2 linked regions of the Homo sapiens genome follow. The protein of the gene in region 2 purifies or fractionates together with the protein of the main gene of each other region. This does not show direct contact. Each region holds a gene or a part of one and is shown on either strand. Other genes may lie near its edges.

What was found. The genes of interacting proteins can lie anywhere in the genome.
Region 1: the proteins of ZNF263 (region 2) and TRIM37 purify together in Homo sapiens (affinity purification with mass spectrometry; 2 studies listed by BioGRID and IntAct, with this or other methods). This does not show direct contact.

What each region holds. Positions count from the first base shown.
Region 1 is NC_000017.11:59,029,294-59,033,880, reverse strand, and holds part of TRIM37 (E3 ubiquitin-protein ligase TRIM37), read left to right. Parts: intron 1-1,790; coding exon 1,791-1,985; intron 1,986-4,587. UniProt on the Homo sapiens protein: E3 ubiquitin-protein ligase required to prevent centriole reduplication. Probably acts by ubiquitinating positive regulators of centriole reduplication.
Region 2 is NC_000016.10:3,288,392-3,293,301, forward strand, and holds the end of ZNF263 (zinc finger protein 263), read left to right. Parts: intron 1-62; coding exon 63-179; intron 180-1,001; coding exon 1,002-2,167; 3' UTR 2,168-3,069; downstream 3,070-4,910. UniProt on the Homo sapiens protein: Transcription factor that binds to the consensus sequence 5'-TCCTCCC-3' and acts as a transcriptional repressor.

The DNA.
Region 1 (4,587 bases), on a different chromosome or scaffold from region 2:
CTCCCAAAGTGCTGGGATAACAGGCGTGAGCCACTGCACCCAGCTTCTCACCCCAGTATTCTTGTTCAGTGTATCTAGGATGTAATTTTAAAAACTCCTTCAGCTGACTGACATACAACCCAATTTGGGAATTCCTTAGTAAAAGAAAAGAGGTAAAAACAGTTTTCAGCTGGGTGCGGTGGCTCACACCTGTAATCCCAGCACTTTGGGAGGCTGAGGCGGGCGGATCACTAGGTTAGGAGATCCAGACCATCCTAACACGGTGAAACCCCGTATCTACTGAAAATACAGGTGTGGTGGTGCATGCCTGTAGTCCCCACTACGGGAGGCTGAGGCAGGAGAATCGCTTGAACCCAGGAGGCGGAGGTTGCCGTGAGTGGAGATCGGGCCGCTGCACTCCAGCCTGGGCAACAGTGAGACTGTGTCTCAAAACACAACAAAGAACAGTTTTCAATGTGAAGGGGAAATCGTTTTCTGTTATTTAATAGGAATTGCAGTAATACAGAGGCTGGGAAGAAAAACTGTCAGTGAGATAATAATCCTTAGAAGAGGAGGCAGAAGTGGGAGACAGTGAGAACATGAGGATGTGAAAAGCATAAATTATTAATTGGCTTGAAGCTTCTGAACAATGGAACTTTCCTCCTAAGTTATATCCTGCTGGATCTCTCTGAAATACTCATGGGTAGTTGGAACCTGACTTTTTAATATTTTATATTATCTACTTTCCTGCGTGTAGCATTGTTTTAAAATGTTCTATCTCTTTAAAATATATTTAAACAGCTTTATTGAAGAAGGTCAGTTTTAAGCAACATTTCCATATCTGGTATTTGTTATGCATTATACTAGGTGCTAGAGAAAAGTCAGATGCTTTTCTTGGCTTAAAGAGCATAGTCCAATATAGGGGTATAGGCATAATATCTGCCTACAGATGTCTGTAATGTGCATCAGTCATTAACATGACAGTCCAAAAACTTCAAATTGTACCCCATTATTTAATCAAAGTAGAAAAAGTCTACCAAACTGTCATGACCTATACATTTTACTGTCCAGAGACTTGGGGGAGATTTCTATTTTGGTGTCTAATTCTTTGTAATCTGTTATACTATGGGAATTTGTCTTCTTTTATCTAAAACCAGGTGGTCATGGGATATAATCTCCTTCTCCTTACCCTTACCTCTCATCCCCCCAATTGTGCACATCGTACACATTGTCATCTGTTTTTTTCTAGGGCTCAGGATGGGGTTGAGGCTTGCTTCTGAATTCTAAGTACTAATGAGGCCACCACTCAATCACTGTGCTAATGTACAACTGTCTGGTTCCTTCTTTCTTTTTTTTTTTTTTTTTTTTTTGAGACGGAGTCTCGCTCTGTCGCCCAGGCCGGACTGCGGACTGCAGTGGCGCAATCTCGGCTCACTGCAAGCTCCGCTTCCCGGGTTCACGCCATTCTCCTGCCTCAGCCTCCCGAGTAGCTGGGACTACAGGCGCCCGCCACCGCGCCCGGCTAATTTTTTGTATTTTTAGTAGAGACGGGGTTTCACCTTGTTAGCCAGGATGGTCTCGATCTCCTGACCTCATGATCCACCCGCCTCGGCCTCCCAAAGTGCTGGGATTACAGGCGTGAGCCACCGCGCCCGGCCCTGGTTCCTTCTTTCTGCTTCTTATCATGAACCTGAACTCCTAAGAGATAGGTCCATAGACAAGTATTCATATAATGTTAACCAGTTCATTTTTTCATTTAAGTATAGCTAAGTTTGTGCATATATATATCATTTTCTACGCCTCTTTTGCAGGTAGTAGCCATGGTTATGTGGGTTCCAGTAGTAGAATATCAAGAAGAACACATTTATGCTCCGCTGCTACCAGTAGTTTACTAGACATTGATCCATTAATTTTAATACATTTGTTGGACCTTAAGGACCGGAGCAGTATAGAAAATTTGTGGGGCTTACAGCCTCGCCCACCTGCTTCACTTCTGCAGCCCACAGGTAAAATAATAACAATGATAATTTCCTTTTTTTCTGTGGTTCTCTAAAAGAACTCTTGGATTTTCATTTAAGTATTTCAGCTATGTGTGGAACATGGTGTATTTCTGTGTTTTTCATTGTATACCATAAAAATGACATTTATGTCAACCAAATTAGTTTTTAAATTACCGTTCAAAGGTGATTTGTGCAAAAACAAAGTAAAAATGCCTGCAAGAAGGTTTTTTGTGACTTGCTACTCAGATTTTGCCTGACAGTTTGATCCATATGAAATACGGTTATCTTCTTTATGAATGGACTTTTTTTGGTCAGGCTTCATGAATTCCCTTACTTCCAAGTGGAACTATATCTAAATTGAACGTAGAAAAAGGTGACTTACTCATTCTTTGATGTTCAGTAGCTTAAAAATGTATGCCAGTTGGCAGCACTGTTTTCTGTGCAAAGGTTATTTGTTAAATAGAAATTACATTTGTGTTACTATAATAAAATGGAGATTTGTATAGTCAAATATGGGCTTTTTTAAACTCTCGGGGATAGAGTCATTTTGGACAACTAAGTATTTGCCTTTAAAAGCTACATTTTAAAAACCATTTTTGTTGGAATGCTTTCTAAAGTATAGTCAGTATATTCAAAAATATATGCCAAATATTTTTCTACCTTCTTAAACAATAGTATTATATACATCAAATCAATGATTTAGAACTCTGATTTTGATGTAGTTTTAAGGCAAGATAACTCATTTTTCAATCAAAGTCCAAGGCAGAACCTCTGTGTAAATAACAGAGAAATAGAGCTCTTCTACTGGTGTAGGGACATGGAGCCCAGATTATTTAGGCTTCTTCTTTCCTAAGAGCCAGATATACTTCCTGAAAGTCTGGATCCTCAGCTTAAAAGACTATCTTCAGGTTATGAAACAGTTGCCTTTTATGTGTGCGCCAAGTATGCTTTATATAAAGTTTTACTTAAATGTTAAGTGTTGTTTGCAAAGGCCCAGTGAAACAGACAGGTTCTGATTCTGTAGGTAGATATGTAAGTTGGTTTAACCTTTTTGAAGGACAATTTTGTAGTAGTTTAAAAATATCTATATCCTTTAAACTTGTAATTTCACTTTGAGGAGTATATTCCAAAGAGAAAACAAGCAGATGTTTAAAAATATTCAACAATACAGTTATAGCTGAATAAATTACAGTGTAACCATGCAATGGTATATTTTATAGACAAGTAAAATCGTGTTTTTGAAAATAATCAGTATCATTGGGAAAAATGCAAACTAAATAGTAAGATTTCTGTGTAAAACTAGTTTTCTGTGTAAAAACAATACAAATGAGATGATCTGAATTTCAAATTTAGGTGATAAAATGCTGGCAATAATGAGGGCGGGGAAAATAGTAGAAAGAAAAAGCAAGTTTTGGATTTAAACATCTTGAGTTGGGCATAACAGTGTGACATCAAATTAGAAAGGACCAGTAGACAGCTAAAAATTAAGAACTGGGGCTGGGCGCAGTGGCTCACGCCTGTAATCTCAACACTTGGGGAGGCTGAGGCGGGTGGATCACCTGAGGTCAGGAGTTCGAGACCAGCCTAGCCAACATGGTGAAACCCTGTCTCTACTAAAAATACAAAAAATTAGCCGGCCATTGTGGCAGGTGCCTGTAATCCCAGCTACCTGGGAAGCTGAGGCAGGAGAATGGCTTAAACCTGGGAGTCGGAGGTTGCAGTGAGCCGAGATCGTGCCATTGCACTCCAGCCTGGGCAACGAGTGAAACTCCATGAAAAAAAAAAATGAACTGGAATACAGACAGTTATTTTTCTGGAGGTGATACTGGATAATTAAAACCAAGGGTGTGAGATTGCAAAGGAGTTTTAAGAATATTTTAAAAGAAGAGAGCCAGGAACATAATCCTGATGAATATCTGTTTTTACTGAGTGTCAGGAAGATGAGCCAGATAAAGAGCTTTTAGAAAGGAGAAAAAATACTCATGGAAGCCAAATGAAAATACCTTTCAGTGAAGGGATGTTAATAAAAGCTAGTGTGCAGAAATATATGACTTTCTTTTTATTGAAAAGGCTTGCTTGGGTCATTTTTTGTTTGATTGATTGTTTGTTTGTTTTTGAGACAGAGTCTCACTCTGTTGCCCAGGCTGGAGTGCTCTACAATTTTTTGTAGAGACAGGTTTCACCATGTTGGCCAGGTTTGTCTCAAAACTCCTGAGCTCAAGTGATCCACCTGCCTCGGCCTCCCAAAGTGTGCTGGGATTATAGGCGTGAGCCACTGCACGTGGCCTGCTTGGGCTTTGATGTTTATTTTTTTCTGTGTATTTATTTAACACATATTTAGTGAACATTTGTCAGATTAACTTCATGTTCTTAACCATGTAAAGGAGTACTGTAAAAGGTATCAGGTAATCTAGTTGAACCAGATTTTAAGGTACATATAGTGGTAAGTAGAACTAGAGTCATGTTGGGTCCATTCTATGAAAGGACTTGCATGCTAGCCGGAGGAATTTATTCATACTAGGCATGGAGAGCTATTGTTTTATTTTAGAAGTGGTTAGATTCAAACCGTATTTCAGAAAGCTGACAGTTCTGAGAAAATTATCAGAAA
Region 2 (4,910 bases):
GTTTCCCTACCCTGGTAGAGGAAAGTGGCAGTACAGAAATCTGTTTCTTTCATTGTGAACAGAGTCTCACATTCCCAGTCAGGAGGTCCCAGGCACCCAGGTGGGACAAGGAGGAAAGCTATGGGATCCCAGTGTCCAGAGCTGCAAGGAGGGCCTGAGCCCCAGAGGCCCAGCTCCAGGTAAGGAATGAAGACAAGTGGCCTGCGCAGCAAGCAGCAAGGCTCTTGCAGTTAAGAGTGAGGCATTTTTTGGTTTTGTTTTGTTTTGTTTTGAGATGGAGTGGCACTCTTGTTGCCCAGGCTGGAGTGCAACAGTGCGATCTCGGCTCACTGCAAGCTCCGCCTCCCAGGTTCAAGCGGTTCTCCTGCCTCAGCCTCCCGAGTAGCTGGGATTACAGGCATGCGCCACCACGCCCAGCTAATTTTTTGTATTTTTAGTAGAGTCGGGGTTTCTCCATATTGGTCAGGCTGGTCTCCCTGACCTCAGGTGATCCACCCACCTCGGCCTCCCAAAGTGCTGGGATTTACAAGTGTGAGCCACCGCCCCCAGCAGAGTAAGGCATTTGAGGATTTGGGTGCAGGGCCGGCCCAGCACAGCTGCTAGAGAGGTACATTACGTCCTTTGACCCTGCCATTCTCCATCCCAGTGAGGCAAGTGAGGAACCCAGGGTGCAGAGTTCAAGGAGGCCCTTATTCTTGAGCTTACTTGTCCCACCCTACTCTCAGCCCTGCTCCATCCCACCCATTCCTGAAGGGCAGAATCGAGAGGCTCAGGTGGAAAGGAAAATTCTAAGACTGGTCTCGGCTCTGATTCCTTGACCAGTGGCCCGACCCTTTATCCTGATGCTTCTCCAGAGTGCTTTACCTTTAGGAGAGGATGGGATTCTGAGGTAGAAGCAGCCCTTCTGGGCTGCTGACCTAACAGGCAGCGGCAGACAGGTGGGATTTTCTTTTCTCCAGCATAGAAATAATGTACGGGTTTGGTTTCTCTCTCTCTACCAGGAGAAGAGAAATTTGAGAACCTGGAAGGTGTTCCGTCTGTATGCTCTGAGAACATCCACCCTCAGGTGCTGCTTCCTGACCAGGCCCGAGGGGAGGTGCCCTGGAGTCCTGAGCTGGGAAGACCTCATGACCGGTCGCAAGGGGATTGGGCGCCTCCCCCAGAGGGTGGAATGGAGCAGGCCTTGGCAGGAGCCTCAAGTGGCAGAGAACTGGGGCGACCGAAGGAACTGCAGCCAAAGAAACTCCATTTATGTCCCTTGTGTGGCAAAAATTTCTCTAACAACTCAAACCTAATTAGGCACCAGAGAATACATGCAGCTGAAAGACTGTGTATGGGTGTGGACTGCACTGAAATCTTTGGTGGGAACCCACGTTTCCTGTCACTACACAGAGCACACCTGGGAGAGGAGGCCCACAAGTGCCTTGAATGTGGGAAATGCTTCAGTCAGAACACCCATCTGACTCGCCACCAACGCACCCACACGGGTGAGAAGCCCTATCAGTGCAACATTTGCGGAAAATGTTTCTCCTGCAACTCCAACCTCCACAGGCACCAGAGAACGCACACTGGGGAGAAGCCCTACAAGTGCCCTGAGTGTGGGGAGATCTTTGCTCACAGTTCCAACCTCCTTCGGCACCAGAGAATTCACACTGGAGAGCGACCTTATAAGTGTCCCGAGTGTGGGAAAAGTTTCTCTCGGAGTTCACACCTCGTCATTCACGAAAGAACTCATGAGAGAGAGAGACTTTACCCCTTCTCTGAGTGTGGGGAAGCTGTGAGTGACAGCACCCCCTTTCTTACAAACCATGGAGCCCATAAGGCAGAGAAGAAGCTCTTTGAATGTTTGACTTGTGGGAAAAGCTTCCGGCAGGGCATGCACCTCACCAGACATCAGAGAACACACACAGGAGAGAAACCGTATAAATGTACCCTTTGTGGGGAAAACTTCTCTCATAGATCCAATTTAATCAGGCACCAGAGAATCCACACAGGAGAAAAACCCTATACCTGTCATGAGTGCGGAGACAGCTTCTCTCACAGCTCCAATCGGATTCGCCACCTGAGAACGCATACGGGAGAGAGACCCTATAAATGTTCTGAATGTGGAGAAAGCTTCTCTCGGAGTTCCCGTCTTATGAGTCATCAGAGAACTCACACAGGTTAGTAACAGTGGGGTTTCTCTTTGCCCCAGGTGAGGTGGCATATTCAGAGGAGCCTGTTGGCAAGAGCTGGTATTCCCTGCCCAGCCGACCAAATGACCTCTGCATTCTTCAGGTAATGGGGGCTCATTGTGAGGGAGGTGCAGAGGCAGCAGAGGATTGGCATAAAACTGAAAAGGAGTTCTGTCTGCATGAGAAAGGATGGCAAGTCTCTGAGGTGACCTCAGGGTGGAATTCTCTGTTAAGTCCACCCTGCCCCAGGGTGCTCCTACCCTCTTGGTCTTTTTAAAGCCAAGGTGCGATTTGGGCACCTGACTGTCCAGTTTACCTTAACAAGTTTGGGAATCCATGTGATGTTTTTGATACTTCTTCCTCATTTGGGACATTCAGTAGGAGCATTTGGGCTTCCGGGGCCCCTGAGACCAAAGAAGAGGGGCCAAGTACCCTGGGAAATCAGCTGAAGGTCAACAAAAGACTGGTTGTGAGTTGCAGCTGTCCCGAAGGCCCCAGTTGGGAAGCCATGGGCAGTCCAGATCAAGCCACCACGTGCCCTACGATGGCCTAACAGGAGTGCCCATTGGCAGATTACACATGTAAATATGACCTCAGACAAAAAGGAACCAGAGGCCCAAGGGCAATAATAAGGTGGAATTTGCAGGTCAGCCCAGGAATTGGCAGAGGAAGTAGGTGTCTGATAACCCTTTGTGGAGAATGAGATTCCCCCCACCTGTGTGAGAAAAATAAACAGCTCTGGAGTCTTGTTCCTGACTCCAGAGGAACGAGAGCATTCCAGGAAAGAGAGATTCCCTGGAAAATTGAAAATGTGAATCCTAGGGGGAAATTGGGGATTGTGTCTTTCCCTGTTGAAAATGTTTGGATGGGAATAAATATCTTCAGGAAACATAAATGTCTGTGAGTCTTCAATGAAAGCCTCTGTCTAGACCCCCGAGTGTTGATCTGTCTCCCCTCTGCCTTGGTCAGAGGCCCTGCTTTCTCATAGACTTACTGGGTTGGTCAGGAAGATGCTGACAAAGGAGGCAGCAGACAGGCAGAGGCAGGTGAGGGCCTGGCAGCCTCCAGGCTGGGACTGCCATGTGGTAACAAAGGGTCAAGCCAAATGGCTGCTGGGGTGATGCTGTCATAGGGTCTCTAGAAAGTATTCTTTCCTTCTGTGGTCTATAGCAGTAAAAATGTTTTCAATTCTTTGTTTAGAATGTTTACATTCTTACTCAGTAGCTGAGGAAGATCTGACTCTTAGAGAACAGGATATTTTGGTCTTGCAACTGATTTCCAGGGTGGAAGTTAAGATGGTCCCAGTATAACTGAGTTATTGATTATTAATGGTAGGAAGATATAGGAGATGGCGCAATTATTAAGGGAAAGCATTATATTTATTTTTTGGTAGAGGTGGGGTCTCACTATTTGCCCAGGCTGGTCTTGAGTTCCCGAGCTCAAGCCTTCTTCCCATCTTGGCCTCTCAAAGTGCTGGGATTACTAGCATTGCATTTTAGAATGGCATATCAGAAATAGGAATTCTAGTAGTGTGTATCTGTGGGAAACGGGGGAGTATTCTAAGAGTAGGAAATCGGATGCCAGGAAAACACCTCAGGATACAGCCCCGGAGGAAGGTATCCAGCTGTTCTTCGGGTGAAAAAGATGAAGAAACAGTCCTTTGGGAACAGGCTGATGGATATAGCAACTTGAAGTCATGGAAACAGCGCTCCATTGATCCTTCTCTCAGCCCTGCCTCAGTTTAGTATGTGTTTTTCTTTGGTTGTCTGAGCCAGTTTTTTAATATCTCACTATTTCTCATTTCTGTAACTTCCTCTTAATCAGCTTGTTCACAGGAGGAGGGCAGTGGTGGTGTGGGGGTTGAGGGCAGGGAAGTGGAGGGTTAGGATTAGAGAGATCAGAGTAGGATCAACAGTGGTAGGAGCAGGACCACACTCCAGTGGAGCAGTGCAGGGCCAGCCAGGCTGCTGATGTCATGAATTGGATGGAATGTAAAGCTGGTGTTCCTACAAAGCACTCTGGTTAAGATGGCAGTTTATGTGGACAGAGACTGGAAAGCGCCCCTTCCATCTACTCTCCCTCCCTTGGTAACATCACCCACACAGATCTTATGATGTGGTCCAACTGGTGCTGCTCATACTTGGAACACTGCAGCTTGAAGCTGGGAAATGACTCTCAGGTATTTGCCATAAAAAGGCATTCCATTGGAACGCTTCACTCAAATCTTCAGTCTAGTTCCCCTTCTAGTAAACTTCACATGCTTAGCTGTTCTTGGCCTGTTTTAATGAGATGACATCACAGAAAATAACTACATAAAGCAGCACTATGCCTGGCATGTAAGAAAGTGCCAACTGTCGACAGATGATCCAAAAGATTTCCTTCTAAGCATCTAACACTGACTGAGGTCACTGAAGACCACACTGGCAGGAATTTCAGGGACTGATGACATCTCCTTCCCTTGTACTCATGTTTGAGAGAGTAGGTCTGATTCCCTTACTGCAGGCCCCCATGAGGTCTGATACGGTTCGGCTCTGTGTCCCCACGCAAATCTCATCTCTAATTGTTATCCCCATGTGTCAAGGGAGGGACCTGGTGGGAAGTGCTTGCATCATGGGGACGGTTTTCCCCTATGCTGTTCTCCTGATACTGAATTCTCCCGAGAGCTGATGGTTTTAAAAGTGTAACAGTTCCCCCTTCACTTGCGTGCTTGCTTGTTCTCTCTTGCCACCTTGTGAA